4 linked regions of the Homo sapiens genome follow. The protein of the gene in region 2 purifies or fractionates together with the protein of the main gene of each other region. This does not show direct contact. Each region holds a gene or a part of one and is shown on either strand. Other genes may lie near its edges.

Region 1 (3,500 bases), on a different chromosome or scaffold from region 2:
GTTAACTACCACATATCTGCATGGACATACTATTACTGATTTAACCAATTTCACATTACTGGGCATAAAAGTTATTTTTGCTATTACAAACAATGCATTTTCTAATTTGAGTATGAACAAAATTAAGTGGAAAACTTTTGGTCTTCAGTCAACAACAACAACAACAACAAAATCCACTAGTGTATGGATAACATTAGTGAAAAAAAAAAACCCAGTTGTCAACCCAACCTGCAAAAAAGCACGGTTTTGATACCACTGAACTTCTTTTACTACAGGAATGAGTAAACAACCAACCTCCACTCATTTATTCTATTAATAAAAGCATGTACACTATTAGTATGCCTCGAATCCTAACATGTTTTATAAAAGGCTACCATCCAGAATACCAGCTACTAATATCTACAAAAGGAGTCAAAGACAATGGTCCTTGAACCCCTGTAACCACTATGATATAACCCAGGCATATCGTTGGGATTGCTCTCCTCCACATACACCATCTACCAAAACTGCCTATGGCTCTCCACAGAAACTCCATCTATCACAGGAAATTTGAGTTTTTATATGTCTAGAAATCTCAAAAATAAGAAATCCTACAGAGCTACAACAAAGACTTTTAACTAACCTCTTAGACCCTCAAATATTTGTGAGGTGGCTGGTAGAGAAGTGGGAGCAAGGAGGTTGAGGTAGAAGTGTAACTTTTTAAAAAATATATATATTTTTAAAGATGGGCGTCTCATTATATTGCCTAGGCTGGCCTCGAACTCCTGGGGTCAAGTGAGCCTCTGCTTTAGCCTTCCAAGGAGCTGGGACTATAGGTGTGCACCAATGCACCTAGCTTGAAGTGTAATTTTTAAACAACCACAACATTCCAAGACAAATCTTTCTGATTTCTGTTCTTTTAGTAATTCCCTAAAGCACAGCTTGTCTATTTCAAGAGTTAAATGTTCGTACTGTGCCACTAGTGACTGAAACACAGAAGCCAAATAATAATACTGATATTTTGAAAATGATGTATGTAATGGAGCTATTTTATTTTTTAAGAGTTAAGAATCATAAACTGTGGAATGAAATATATAAAGCATTTCAGATGTACAAATATATAAAACATCTAGTAAAACAATGCATTTACAAACATTAAACATTAAGATAAATTGCTATATTAAATACAATTAGTTTTCAAAAATAAAACTAAGCTACGAAAAACAAAAATAATGAGAATGAATTATTTAATCTTTGATATGGTTTGGCTCTGTGTCCCCACCCAAATCTCATCTTGAATTGTAATCCCCACATGTCGAGGGAGGGAGCTGGTGGGACGCAATTGGATCATGGGGTCAGTCTCCGCAATGCTGTTGTCATGATAGTGAGTGAGTTCTCTTCAAAGTGTTTAGCAGTTCCCCCCTCACTTGCTGTATCTCCTGCTGCCATGTAAGATGTGCCTTGCTTCCCCTTCGCCTTCTGCCGTGGTTCCTGAGGCCTCCATAGCCATGTGGAACTGTGACTCAATTAAATTTCTTTTCTTTATAAATTACCCAGTCTCAGGTAGTTCTTTATAGCAGTGTGAAAAAGGACTAATACAGAAAATTGGTACCAGGAGTTTGGGCCACTGCTATAAAGATGCCTGAAAATAAGGAAACAACTTTGGAACTGGGTAACAGGCAGAGACTGCAACAGTTTAGAGGGCTCAGAAGAAAGAAAGATGAGGGAGAATTTGAAACTTCCTAGAGACTTGTTGAATGGATTTGAACAAAATGCTGACAATGATATGGACAGTGAAGTCCAGGCTGAGGTGGTTTCAGATGGAGATGAGGAACTCACTGGGAACTGGAACAAAGGTCACTCCTGCCGTGCTTTAGCAAAGAGACTGGCAGCATTTTGCCCTGCCCTAGAGATCTGTGGAACTATGAACTTGAGAGAGATGATTTAGGTTACCTGGCATAAGAAATTTCTAAGCAGCAAAGTGTGCAAGAGGTAACCTGGCTTTTTTTGAAAGTGTACAGTCATATGCATTCATGAAGAGATGATCTGAAACTGGAGCTCATGTTTAAAAGGGAAGCATAGCATAGAAGTTTGAAAAATGTACATCCTGACCATGTAGTAGAAAAGAAAAACCCATTTTCTGGGAAGAAATTCAAGCCAGCTGCAGAAATTTGCATAAGTTACAAGGAGCTGAATATTAATAGCCAAGACAATGGGGAAAATGTCTCCAGGGCATTCCAGATATCTTCATGGCATCCCCTCCCAACACAGGTCCAGAGGCCTAGGAGGGAAAAATGGTTTCATGGGCCAGGCCCAGAGCCCTGCTGCTCTGTATAGCCTCGGGACTTGGTGCCCTGTGTCCCAGCCACTCCAGCTCCAGCTGTGGCTAAAAGGGGTCAAGGTACAGCTTGGGCTGTTGCTTCAGAGAGTGTAAGCCCTAATCCTTGGTGGCTTCCATGTGGTGTTGGGCCTGCAGGTACACAGAAGGCAAGAGTTGAGGTTTGGGAGCCTCCGCCTAGATTTCAGAGGATGTATGAAATGCCTGGAGGTCCAAGCAGAAGTCTGCTGCAGGGGCAGAGCCCTCATGGAGAACCTCTGCTAGGGCAGTGTGGAAGGGAAATGTCAGGTTAGATCCCCCACACAGAGTCCCCACTGGGACACTGCCTAGTGGAGCTGTGAGAAGGGGGGTCACCATCTTCTAGATTCCAGAATGGTGTACCATGTGCCTGGAAAAGCCACAGGCACTCAATACCAACCAGTGAAAGCAGCTGCAGAGGCTGTACCCTGTAGAGCCACAGGGGTGGAGCTGCCCAAGACCTTGGGAGCCTACCTTTTGGATCAGTGTGCCCTGGATGTAAGACATGGAGGCAAAGGAGATTATTTTGGAGCTTTAAGACTGAATGGCTACCCTGCTAGGTTTCGGACTTGTATGGGACCTGTAGCTCCTTTGTTTTGGCCAATTTCTCCCATTTGAAATAACAGTATTTACCCAATGCCTGTATCCTCATTGTTTCTAGGAAGTAACTGACTTGCTTTTCATTTTACAGGCTCATAGGCGGAAGGGACTTCCCTTGTTTCAGATGAGACTTTGGACTTGGACTTTTGGGTTAATGCTGGAATGAGTTAAGACTTTCAGGGACTGTTGAGAAGGCATGATTGTGTTTTGAAAGTGAGAACATGAGATTTGGAAGGGGCCAGGGACAGAATAATATGATTTGGCTCTGTGTCCTCACCCAAATCTCATCTTGAATTATAATCCCCACATGTCAAGGGAGGAACCTGGTAGGAGGTGATTGGATCATGGGGGCAGTTTCCCTCATGCTGTTCTCATGATAGTAAGTGAGTTCTCATGAGATCTGATGGCTTAAAAGTGTTTGACAGATCCCCCCTGCTTGCTGTCTCTCCTGCTGCCATATAAAACATGCCTTGCTTCCCTTTCACCTTCCTCCATGATTGTAAGTTTCCTGAGGCCTCCCCAGCCATGTGGAACTGTGAATCAGTTAAATCTCTTTTCTTATAAG
Region 2 (5,320 bases):
CCGATTTCCCAGAGGCCTCCATTCAAGTGCAGATCAGCTCCCAATCACCCCTGTTCGGTCCCTGACCCAACTTTTCCCAATTAACACAAACTTCTCACCTACGTTCACCTTCCCCCTCATGTCCTGGCTGCAGCTTTCCCTTCCGGACTCCCACAGGAGCATCCCTCCTACTTCTCACAGTGTCCTGTTCCCTTACCCATCTTCCCTCCTCAGGCCCCACCCACCTGGGACAGAGCTGGAGGAGGCGCCGGTGGTCCTCTGCTATGTCCCGGCTCCAGGCTTGTGCCCGAATTGTGTAGAAGAGACATGTTCGGCGACACAGCTGCTCCCGGAACAGTGGCCAGAATGTGGGCTTAGGGCCCAGGACCTCCACACCCCGAACCCGGGTGTCAATGCCGCCCTGGAACATGCACAGACTTATCTGTCACCCAAGCCGCTTGAGCCACTAAGTACTACCAAAGCCAAGCCTCCTGCCCTGAGCTCCCTAGAACTGCTCAGGACATCCCCACATCTCTGGGACTCAACAGGTCCTGGGCCATCTCCCAAGCAGATCAAGGAGAAACTTGTGTGCCACCTCCTCCTCCTCAGCCCTGGCTGACACCCTAACACCACCTGCTGGCAGCGCTTTATGCGGATCTGGATGATGGGCCAGAAGCGGTTCAGGTTCTCCAAGAGGATCACCCGGCTGGCAGAGGGCATCACATTCACCTGGTAGGGCAGGGGAGAAGAGGGAGAGAACTGTCACCTCCAGAAACAAGGTTGGAAAAATTGTTGACAGTAACCAAGTCGGTCATGGTGTGTGCCCTTCACTTCTCCCGCAGAGCCTAGGGATGGACGTGGCTCTGCATCCCTAATCCCACTCTCACTGCTTACAAGGCAACACCTTCCCAAGGGGAAGGGATGTCACCATTCCCCAGGGACTAGGTCCTTCCCACAGGCACTGGGACAAAAAGAAGGATGTGGAGCAAGGTGAAGGTGGGCACAAGGGTCCCCACCGTGTTGAGCTCAGTGCCGATGCAGCTGGTGCTGTCACCCCCAAACACCACCACCCTGGCTGGCATGTAGCTTGAGTCCTCACTGGCCACCAGCAAAGTGAGCTGCCTGGGAAAGAAGAAAGGAAACAGTCAAAGCTGGGCCTCTGGACGTGGTGGCTCACATCTGTAATCCCAACACTTTGGGAGGCTGAGGTGGGAGGATCGCTTGAGGCTAGTTTAAGATCAACCTGGGCAACACTGCAAGACCCCACCTCTACGAAATAAAAATCAAAAGAAGGAAATAAAAAGGCCAGAGCCCTGGTTTCAGTTCAAAACTATTTCAAGCCACCACTTCTTTCTCAGGCTCCTGTTCCTCTGCTGGCTCCTGAGGCAGCTGTCCCCACTAGACCCTCTGCTCTTCCCTCTATATTCACCCAAAGTGACTTAATTTAAACCCACAGTTTCAACTGAAAATTAATACACAGAGGACTCCAAATACACATCTCTATCCCAGACCACTCTCCTGAGCTTTCATGCTGTGTCCCCAACAGGTATTTCCATGTCATGTCCCACAGGCACCTCAGAGTCATCATGCCCAAATGAAATGATCATCTGTCCACATAAACCTGTCCCGCTTCCTGTTTCTCTCCTGGGAAATAAAACTTCCGTGCACTCAGTACTCAACTAGAATACTGTCACTGAGGCCTTCACCTTCTCATGGCTTCCCTCACCCAAAGGCAAGTCTTGTGGACTCCATCTCTGAGGATTTCCCAGTCAGTTCCCACTCCTGCTGTCTAACTGAACACATGGATCCTTTCTCTACTAGAGCACTGCATACACCTTCCACCTCCTTCTTCTACCTCCAGCGCAAACTCCCATAGTTGCCAGAGTGAGCTTTCTCAATAAAAAATCTAGTTTTCTCTCCTCCCTTCTTAAAATCTTCCAATGGCTCTCCCAACTTTTGGAATAAAGTTCAAACTGCTTAGCTCACAAAACATTTTGTGATCTGCCTTTGCCTACTTTTCTGGCCTGTATCTTCCGCCACTTAGACATACACAGCTTTCGGCCGGGCGCAGTGGTTCACGCCTGTAATCCCAGCACTTTGGGAGGCCAAGGCGGGCGGATCACGAGGTCAGGAGATCGAGACCATCCTGACTAACACGGTGAAACCCCGTCTCTACTAAAAATACAAAAAATTAGCCAGGCGTGGTGGCAGGCGCCTGTAGTCCCAGCTACTCGGGAGGCTGAGACAGGAGAATGGGGTGAACCCGGGAGGCAGAAGTTGCAGTGAGCTGAGATCACACCACTGTACTCCAGCCTGGGCGGCAGAGCGAGACTCCATCTCAAAAAATATAAAAAAATAAAAATAAAGATATACACAGCTTTCAATTGTAACCAAATATGATGACTTAAAGTCCCTCCAAATATACTTTCTTACTTCCATTTTGCACATATGCTGTCCTTATGCCTAGAATATTGCCCCCTCTTTATCTACCTAATTTCAATGTCAAAACCCAGCTCAGTCACCCCCTCCTTCCAGAAGGAAGTCTGCTCTCATGCCTGTCAGTCTCAGGTCCACATGTGGACCACAATGCTTTTTCTTACTCTGTGCTCTTACTTGATTTTCTAGTGTAGCTCCCCAGCTGGAATGTAGGTACCATATCTTATTGTCCTTCTATTTCGAGACCCTTGCACAGTGCCTGACACAAATGCCTGGCATTAAGCAAATGCCCAAAGGAGAAATGGATAAGTGAGCTGTTTATCTCCCTCAACACTAAGCACAGGGCAGTGCCATCTGTACCTGTTGGAGTACAGATCACCAGACTCTGGGAGTGAGGGGATGTCTATACTCAGCAAAGGCAGGTCAATGTGTCTATGTGTTCACTGCACAAAATAGGTTTGAGTGTGTCCCTCAGGCATTGGGGTTATAGCTGGGGTTGTGTGTATCTGGGTGCTTTGGGGAAGTATCCTGGGGCACAGCAGAACATTCATATATGTGTGTTCACACCTAACAAGAACACCACGGTGCATGTGCAGGGTGATGTAGTGGGAGCCGGTGCTGCCGTTGGACTCCCAGTAGGTCTTGGGGTTGTGGTCCGTCAGCTTGCTGGCTCGGTGCGGGTTGGAGGACACCTCCACCTTCTCCCAGCACTTGTCCTCCTTCACTTCCACACTGGAGCCTGGGGGCAAGTGGGAAGGGGTGGCAGTCACAGCTAGGTTAGTTGAGAGGAAAAAGGAAAAGGTCTAAGGAGCAGGAAGGGAAGGGGAGAACAGACACTGGATGGGAGCCAGGAGAAAGCAGATGAGGGCACTAACCCTGGCAGAGATGCCTGAGGAACACATCAAAGAAGGGGATATTGATGGGTTGGTGGGTTCGTCTGTGGTCTTCGATCTGGCCCAGCACCATCTGCAGCCGGAACATCAGGGAGAATGAGGAAGAGGAGAGGGAGGAACACAGAGAAATGCCCAGAAACAGGTAGAGAGAAAAAGTCAAGGGTCAACGGTATACTCAACTCCTCTCTCCCCACATTTTGACAGAACCATGTGGAGTCAAGGTTAGGAAACAAGTGCCCCAGATTTGCTACAACCTGTGCCAAACAGGGATACCAAAGAGGAACACAGTGAATCCCCTTCTCCTGCTTCTGACTTGCATTCTCTCAGCTGCATACCCACAGCCGCTCCTCACCTGAATGCAGCCGGCCAGGATGCTGGAGGTGAGGTTGCTATAGAGCTGTGCGTACTTCTCACACTCTGTCACCAGGTCCCGAAGCTCACAGCCCAGCAGCAGCTGAGCTGAGTGCTTGTCCAGGACTTTGGAGAGGATCTCTTTTGCTCCCAGGCAGCAGAGCACCACAGCATAGTCCTTATGCATCGAGGCCAGGCGATGTAGGAAGCAGGTCAGCTCCTGAACAATCTGAGCCCAGAGCCACATAGATTAATTTACAGGAAACAAGAGGTAGGACATGTAAGGATTGAGGAGAGGGTTCAGTAAAGGAAGTGTCGTGGCTGAGATTGTGGAGACATGCCAACGCCCAGGGAAACAAGAGTACCAAATTCAGGGTGGAGTAAAATAGAGGAGTGCTGGGACTCCAGAGTGAGTTGGCAGAACAGAGCTTGGGCACAGCTTTCCAGGCTGCTTCCTGCCCAGGCCAAGCTATGTTAACCCTGGTGCCTGAGCCTTGCTCTCCAATGCACAAACCCGGAAGGGAGGACAGCTGTCTGGATTGGTGAATGTGGGCTTCTCCTTAGTCCAGAATCTAAACTCCAAATCTAAAATCATCTAAAAGGTTTATACTTCAAAGATTCCAGTTCTGGAGATTCTTAGATTACATTACCCTTCCTCCTCCTACACCCATCCCAGTGCCCCAAGATCCATTCAGAAAGGCTCTGCTGTGCCCTCCAGAGCCTCACAAGGAGTTGGTGCCCCAGATGCTGCCCTTCCCTCTCTTCTCCTTGCCAGGGTTCTGGTACCTCGGAGTCACTGCTAGGGCCACTCAGGCAGTTGAGGCAGGGCTCCAAGACCTCGTGCCAGGGGAGGACCATTGCCTCAGGGAAATCCAGCAGTCGGGTTATGACCCTGGTGAGGGGGTAGAAACGAGTGAAGTCAGGCCAGGCACAGTGGCTCATGCCTGTAATCCCAGCACTTTGGGAGGCCGAAGTGGGCGGATCACCTGAGGTCGGGAGTTCGAGACCAGCCTGACCAAAATGGAGAAACCCCATCTCTACTAAAAATACAAAATTAGCTGGGCATGGTGGCACATGCCTGCAATCCCAGCTACTCGGGAGGCTGAGGCAGGAGAACCACTTGAACCTGGGAGGTAGAGGTTGCAGTGAGCTGAGATCGTGCCATTGCACTCCAGCCTGGGCAACAAGAGTGAAACTCCAACTCAAAAAAAAAAAAAAGAAAACAGAAAAGAAACAAGTGAAGTCCCTGAAGTCTGCCAGTTTCCCTCGTCCCAATGCATGGTGCCTCAACAGGCCCCTCACCTCAGCACAGACAGCAGCAGAGTCTTGTTGGGCCCCGGAGCATCCAGAGTCCGCAGCAACAGGAGGAAAGGCTGGGTCTCCTGCTGGAGGCGCTTGAGGAGGGGCCTCACGGCACCTCCGGGGCTGCCCTCACGGCACAGCACACGCTCCAAGTCCAGGAGTAGTTCTGCAGATGGGCCCCCAACCAGGGATCGAATCAGTAGCTCAGGGGACCCATCCTGACCCTGGATGATGGGGGTCTCTAGTGCTGCAGCCAGACACACCAGAGGGAAAAATGTGGATGAAGAGTCTTACCAGTTTGTCAAACTGAGAACTGGGAAGGTCCAGAAAATCACCCCAAAATTTTCCTTCTATATTGA
Region 3 (3,500 bases), on a different chromosome or scaffold from region 2:
GAAATGAACCAGCCAACAATACAGATATGATATAACACATTTTAACACATTCACATGACAAAACATTTTTTAGCCAATTAAAAAACATATGTATATGTCTTCAAAGAATTCATACCATCCATGGAAAAATACTCATAATGTTAATTTTTAAAAAGTGCAGTTCAATAGTATTTCAATAATGTAAAAATATGAATAAAAGTAGTAGTACATTACAATATTAACAAGTGGTTATATAATTGGGGTGTTGGTAATTTCTTTTTTTATACCATTCCTATATTTTCCAAGTGTTATTTAAACACATTTCCTGAATGTTATTTAAAGAAATTTCTTTATAATCAGAAAAAGTGTTACAATAGAAAAAAAATCTGATGTTGCTGCTTGTAAGTATAAAAAGTAAAACTTAAAATATCTGTAGCAGGAACATAAAAACTAAAAACAAAAAACAGACAGAAGCAAATCCAGAATTACTGCTATCATCAAGACAGAAATATGAAAATGCTATTCTCAAGAATAATTTTTAGAGTTCAAACAAAATGCAACGAAATGATACCAAGCACACCACTGCTGTTAAATGAACTGTCGTTTACTTCACAAGGAAGAGACCTATATTTGACATCTCCATTCTTAAACTATAGTTATCACGATAAGGAAAGTCAATGAATTAAGATGAAAAGTGGATATTAGATTACCAAACCTCATATTAGCTGCTGTAGTTGGTCTATAACAATTTGGGCCCAATATGGATCCACCAAAAAGCAAAAATCACCATTAAATATGAGAATTTACTCTCACTGGATTCTTAAAAGTCTGAGGTGCTTTTCTTTCTTTTGCAAATTGCAGGAAGTACTGTAAAGGATGTGTTCTGGTCCTGAATGAACCATTATCAATACCCTTACTAGCCGCTCCCTTAAATCATCCCTCTAATTATCCTACTTTGTTTCCCCTAAAACCACCTACAGATAACTATTATTAATAATATTCTAAAGGAGTCTGTGTCTGGATTACATGGTGTGGCTTCACCACCAACACAGCCTTAGACTCTCCTTAGTATCTCTGCAGGGGTTGACTCTCTGGAAACAATTACTACATGAATTAAATTAACCATTAAGAAATCTTTAATCCTTAATGATATAACTGTTCTAATTGGTTTGCACTTTGTTTTATCTATGTCCTGGTCTGAAGTACCCTGGCACTTTAATCTCCCTCTGGTACTGACTCTATAGATGTGTATTAACTAGCTATGCACAATCCAATACCAAATTCATGTTAGAATGTGAGAGCCATCTGTAATTCTTACTCTATGTATAGGGTTTTCCTACTTTTCCAATAAAGCATGATTAAAATAAATTCTCAAGCATATTATATGTTCTAGCTTTGGCTGTTTCTTTGCTTAATTTTAAATGCAAGTATTATGCCTCTGCTTTGGTCATTTTCAAAAGCAGTGACTAGGATCTTATATACAAATATAAATGCATTGCTGGGAAGGCTAATTTTTGTGCATTTAGGATACTATTTTAAAAACCAATCACTAAATTCTCTGTAAACATCAAATATTGACTCAAAAGGCTCAATATCTACATTTTTATAAATTTGAATCATGGACTCGTAGGCATCCACAATGTGTTTAGGGCACACTACATAAAGCAGTTTGCCTGCAGCAGGCCTACTGAAATAACCATAATGCAAGTAAGCCAGTCTCACCGTTTCACAACAGGTGAGAACCAGCAAAAACAAAAAAAAATTTGAAAAATAAAATTCCTGGGCAGTTGCGTAAATGTGGTGGAGGCCATTCACTAACATGCTTAGAGCTTACACTTGCTTAGAATTCCAGCTCTCAGATCCTATTTTATACTGTATTGACTACCTCTGTATACATTCCTAACAAGTTTCATTGTCTGGATTCTAAATTAACAGAAGGCTATAAACAGCAAATCAGAAAGGAAACTGCTGGAGGCAGGCAAACTGATAGCAGCAAGAAATGATGGCTGACAGAGAAAAGATTCAAAATACAATAAAAACAGATCAAAACTCAAATAATGCTACAGTCTAGACCTCCAGTGGAAGAGTAAAAAGCTGTTCTAACTTATAAATTAGGAAAACATCATTCCAGCACACTCATTAAGAAAACTGTTAAATTATATATTTCAGAAGGACTACATTATAAAATGGTCAAGATATTTTTAAGTTGAGGTGTTTAAAAGAATAAATCCTTACCTACCCAGGAATCCTAATATCCAGAGTTGTGGTCTCCAGTTCTTGCTAGCTGGTGTTTCCTGCCCTTCATTTTAGCTATGGGTTCTGGACAGGGGACTGCATCAGATGTGTCATATTAGACACACATTGAGGAGGTCAAAAATACAGCCCTAAAATCCTCACTGCCCTGGGAAATCTCTCTAGTATAGGAACTTACCATCCACAAACTCAGTAAACAAAGAAACCATAGAGAATACAGTGGCAAGGCATGTTTTTAAAGCAGAGTACAGGTTACAATTTACTGAATAAAAAATACCCTACCTTTCATAGACATTCTCCACATGCTGTTGAATATGATGTGGAGAGTATCTATGTAAGGTGTTTAACTCCCAACATCCTCTTGAATGTGGCTGCACTTAGTACTCTGCTTCTTATGAGGAGAGTATAGAGGGGGAAGAGTAACTTTACAATGGAGAGACCTGACGACTGTGTCTCAGCCAGGTGATCAAGATTAATGTCATTAATGACATCATGTTAATAACATGTACCTTTGATATGATGTAATGAGAATGACCCTTGTGACCTTCCTCTTGAAATTTCACAACCCCGATCCAACAATGAGAAAAACATCAAATGAATCAAAATTGAGGGACATTCTACCAAAATATCTGACCAGTGCTCCTCAAAACTGTCAAGGTCATTAAAAACAAAGTTGAGAAACTGCTATAGACTAGAGGAGCCAAAGGAGACAAGACAACAAAATGTAATTGGTATCCTAGTTTGGATTTTGGAACAGAAAAAGGACATTAGGGAAAAGCTAGTGAAATATGAATAAAGTGTGGTTTAGTTAATAGTAACGTACCAATGTTGGTTCTTTGGTTGTGACAAATGTACTGCAGGAATATCAAATGTTAATGTTAGGGAATCCAGCTGGGCATGGTGGCTCATGCTGGTAATCCCAGCACTTCGGAGGCCAAGGTGGGAGGATCACTTAAGCCCAGGATTGCAAGAGCAGCCTAGGCAACACAGTGAGACCTTGTCTCTACAAAACATATTTTTTTGAGACAGAGTCTCACTCTGTCGCCCAGGCTGGAGTGCAGTGGCGTGATCTCGACTCATTGCAACCTCCACCTTCTGGTTCAAGCGATTCTTGTGCCTCAGCCTCCCAAGTAGCCGGGATTACAGGCGTGCACCACTGCACCCGGCTAATTTTGGTACTGCTAATAGAGATGGGGTTTCACCATGTTGCCCAGGCTGGTCTTGAATTCCTGGGCTCAAGGGATCTGCCTGCCTTGGCCTCCCAAAGT
Region 4 (3,500 bases), on a different chromosome or scaffold from region 2:
GGGTGAGGTTCAGAGGAGGGAAACAGCAGCGGTGCAGGTGGGATGAGGTGGGGGATGAATGAGACAGAACCTGTGGGCCAGCCCGGCTACTCACTTGCTCTCTGGAAGCCGAGAGGGACAGGATCTCCTTGAGGGTGTCCCCAGGATGGAACTGTATGATATCGGCCAACAGCTGCTTGGTGCTGCACAAGGAGGACAGTGACAGAGGAGAGGTAAGGGGCAGGGGAAGGGCCTGGACATGGGACTGGCCAGAGGTCTGAGAGTAAGTGGACCGTGCTCTATAGCATGGCTGCTAGGATATAAGGAGAGAGAGCGAGGGATAGGGGATGTCGTTGCCTGGAATACCTTCCCAACAAACTATCTGCCTTTGAGTCCTTCAGCTGAGCACACATGTCCTTCCCACCCAGCCATCCCTTCTCCTTAGCTCTCAATGCATCTGACACCCACCACCCTCTTGGTGGTGCTCTGTGTTCAGCCCTAGCCCGATCCTGCTCTCAGCCCTTTGATGGCAGGACAAAGATGATACTCAGCTCACTTGTTTTTTTTTTTTTTTTTTGAGATAGAGTTTCACTCCTGTCACCCAGGCTGGAGTGCAATGGCATGATCTCGGCTCACTGCAACCTCTGCCTCCCAGGTTCAAGTGATTCTCCTGCCTCAGCCTCTCAAGTAGCTGGGATTACAGGTGCCTGCCACCACACCCAGCTAATTTGTGTATTTTCAGTAGAGATGGGGTTTCACCATGTTGGCCAGGCTGGTCTCGAACTCCTGACCTCAGGTGATCCACCTGCCTCGGCCTCCCAAAGTGCTGAGATTACAGACATGAGCCACCGCACCTGGCCAGCTCACTTGTTTATTGAGTGAATGAGTGGGTGCAAGGGGTTGCCTTGTTGGCAGGAGCTTGAGCTGGCACTTTGGCTCCTCTTCTGCCCAGATGACCAGCTCACCCCTACTGGGAGTCCTCCCTCACTTTTGTAGAACTGGGGAAGAAGAGCTCCATGCCCATCTCCTGACCATCACACTCAACAAGAATGCGGAATTAGGCTGGGCGCAGTGGCTCACGCCTGTAATCCCAGCACTTTGGGAGGCCAAGGCAGGCAGATCACTTGAGGTCAGGAGTTCAAAATCAGGCTGGCCAACATGGTGAAACCCCATCTCTACTAAAAATACAAAAATTGGCCGGACATGATGGCGAGCACCTGTAGTCCCAGCTACTCAGGAGGCTGAGGCAGGAGAATCGCTTGAACCCAGAAGGCGGAGGTTGCAGTGAACTGAGTTCGTGTCACTGCACTCCAGCCTGGATGACAGAATGAGACTCCATCTCAAAAAAAAAAAAAAAAAAAAAGTGGAATTAGAACATGAGCTCTACAACCCACTGGCTGTGGAACTTTGGATAAATCACATAACTACTGAGTCTTTCCTCAACTATGAAGAGGGGAAGCCACCATCTACCTCATAGCTTGTTTCTAAGAATAAACGATAACTTATTAAAAAAGCATTTGGGCCAGGCGCAGTGGGTCAATCCTGTAATCCTAGCACTTTGGGAGGCTGAGCCAGGTGGATGGCTTTGAGGCCAGGAGTTTGAGGCCAGCTTGGGCAACATGGCGAGACTCTGTCTCTACTTGAAAAAAAAGAAAAAAGCATTTGGTAAACAGCACGATATGCAAACACCTGCTGTTGCCAATATCTTCACCATTCCTTTACTTTCAGTACAACACAGAGCAAAAAGCTGAGGATACCAGATGGAAAAGAGCCAAGGCTGCAGCGAGGGGAATAAAGGTAGGCTTCAGGGAGAACTTCCTGAAGGATAAGGGAGCCCAGGAAGAAGGTGGAATGGGCGCCTCAGAATAAGGCCATTTTACTGGCCTCAGGGCTGGGGAGCTCAGGTATGCAGGGGCAGAGGCTGGCATCACCCACCTCAGAAGCAGGCTACGGGTGTTGGAGTCATCAGCATCTGCCTCTAGTCCTTCAAACTTGTTGGTCAGCGTCAGGGACACTTCTAGCTTGCTCAGGTCCGTGTGCCCATCTGCAGCGATGCTCTCACCTGAGGTGTGGTGAGGAATGAGAGGGAGACAGGCATACACACACACATGCGCACACACACATACACACACACACATGCACCGATGGGGTCACATTAAATCAGCTGCTCCACATGCCCCTCTTCCAGGAAGTTTTCCCACACTGGCCTGCAGAACTACCCTGTGTCCCCAACCCTTAGCACCGATGGAAGGGCTGTTACCCACAGAGCATACCCTTGTGTTACTGGGGCTGTGCCACCCCCACACCCTCAGCCCTGGGTGCCCTGAGGGTAGAGGAGCTGTGCCTCCCTGAGCCTGCAGCTCCTGGTTCTCTCCAATCACCATCTTCATTCTGTCCTTCCTCCCAGTAAGTTGGCTTCCTCCTATTCCATGGCCCGGAAACCCCTCCTTCTCAGAGAAACCTAATGAGGCCCTGATCCCTGTGCCTCTTTCAGATCATTTCATTGACCGTTTTCCATGATGATCGTGGGTCCCTCTACTGTCTGTCTACCTTCTCCACATCAATCTGTGTCCCTGTGCCCATGTCAGGACCAGAGGGAGAGTATGGAACTAGCCGCCTGGCACAAGACCTAGGCTGCATGGGCACGCTCACATGCCCTGCCTGCCTGCCTGTCCCTCCCTCCATGCAGGTCCCCTAGCTGGCCTCAGCTGCTAAGGAGGGCACGTACCAATAAGGTCAGGGATGGTGGGCAGCTCCCCAAGATCCTCCAGGAGCTCATGCAGGGGGTCTTGGTGATCAGGGGCAATGCAGTCCTGGTGCTCCAGCAACAGCTGCAGGACGGAGAAAGAAAAGGAGATGCAGGGTCTGAGCCAGGTCTTCCCTCTGGGGCCAGCCCACTACCCCATCACAGGCTACCAAACCCTTGCCCACCCAGCCAACACCCTCCAGATCTCAGCCCCTCACCCTGTGCGTGTTGACCAGCTCCCCCACGGTGATGTACACCATGGGTTTGGCCACAGCCACCATGTCTGAGTACTCGTCCACTGCAAAACGCTCCTCTGGCTCTGGCACCTGGCAGGCTCTATGGATGAACTTCCTGTCCAGAGGGCGGGCATGTGAGAGAGCGGGGAGGGCCAGCACCCCACACATCTTCTGTCCCCATCATTTCCCCAGCCTTCTCCAGTGATTGCTCAGGCCAATTTGGACTCTCCAGTCTCAGCTTCTGCCCTCTGTCCTGCCCTACCTCTGTCCCAGTGACCCCTCAAGACAATCTCTCTTAATAGTCTCCTTTTCTCTCCACTGGGGAGTCCTTCCAACAACCTATCCTCCACCCCGCTCATTATGCTCATCCCTTCTATTTATGCCTCTTGTCCTCATGGATTCTGGAGGGGACAAGTGGGATGTCAAAGGTGAGAAGAGGGAAGAAAGGGGACAGAGAGGAAAGGGACCCAAGACCTGAACTTGAGGTGTGTTTCCTCCAGATAGTCATTCAGGACCCGTAGGTGCTGGCTCTGCCCAGA

Evidence for each region. Proteins that work in one complex are often made in the same cells at the same time.
Region 1: the proteins of CUL9 (region 2) and EIF5A2 purify together in Homo sapiens (affinity purification with mass spectrometry, with the first as the bait; one large-scale study listed by BioGRID). This does not show direct contact.
Region 3: the proteins of CUL9 (region 2) and ISOC1 purify together in Homo sapiens (affinity purification with mass spectrometry, with the first as the bait; one large-scale study listed by BioGRID). This does not show direct contact.
Region 4: the proteins of CUL9 (region 2) and IQGAP3 purify together in Homo sapiens (co-immunoprecipitation; one large-scale study listed by IntAct). This does not show direct contact.

The regions. Positions count from the first base shown.
Region 1 is NC_000003.12:170,895,138-170,898,637, forward strand, and holds part of EIF5A2 (eukaryotic translation initiation factor 5A-2), read right to left. Parts: intron 1-3,500. UniProt on the Homo sapiens protein: Translation factor that promotes translation elongation and termination, particularly upon ribosome stalling at specific amino acid sequence contexts.
Region 2 is NC_000006.12:43,198,497-43,203,816, reverse strand, and holds part of CUL9 (cullin-9), read right to left. Parts: intron 5,209-5,320; coding exon 4,962-5,208; intron 4,552-4,961; coding exon 4,446-4,551; intron 3,889-4,445; coding exon 3,661-3,888; intron 3,382-3,660; coding exon 3,291-3,381; intron 3,155-3,290; coding exon 2,983-3,154; intron 1,102-2,982; coding exon 996-1,101; intron 709-995; coding exon 613-708; intron 401-612; coding exon 225-400; intron 1-224. UniProt on the Homo sapiens protein: Core component of a Cul9-RING ubiquitin-protein ligase complex composed of CUL9 and RBX1. The CUL9-RBX1 complex mediates ubiquitination and subsequent degradation of BIRC5 and is required to maintain microtubule dynamics and genome integrity.
Region 3 is NC_000005.10:129,101,249-129,104,748, reverse strand, and holds part of ISOC1 (isochorismatase domain-containing protein 1), read right to left. Parts: intron 1-3,500.
Region 4 is NC_000001.11:156,531,066-156,534,565, forward strand, and holds part of IQGAP3 (ras GTPase-activating-like protein IQGAP3), read right to left. Parts: coding exon 3,436-3,500; intron 3,077-3,435; coding exon 2,944-3,076; intron 2,811-2,943; coding exon 2,708-2,810; intron 2,042-2,707; coding exon 1,915-2,041; intron 183-1,914; coding exon 95-182; intron 1-94.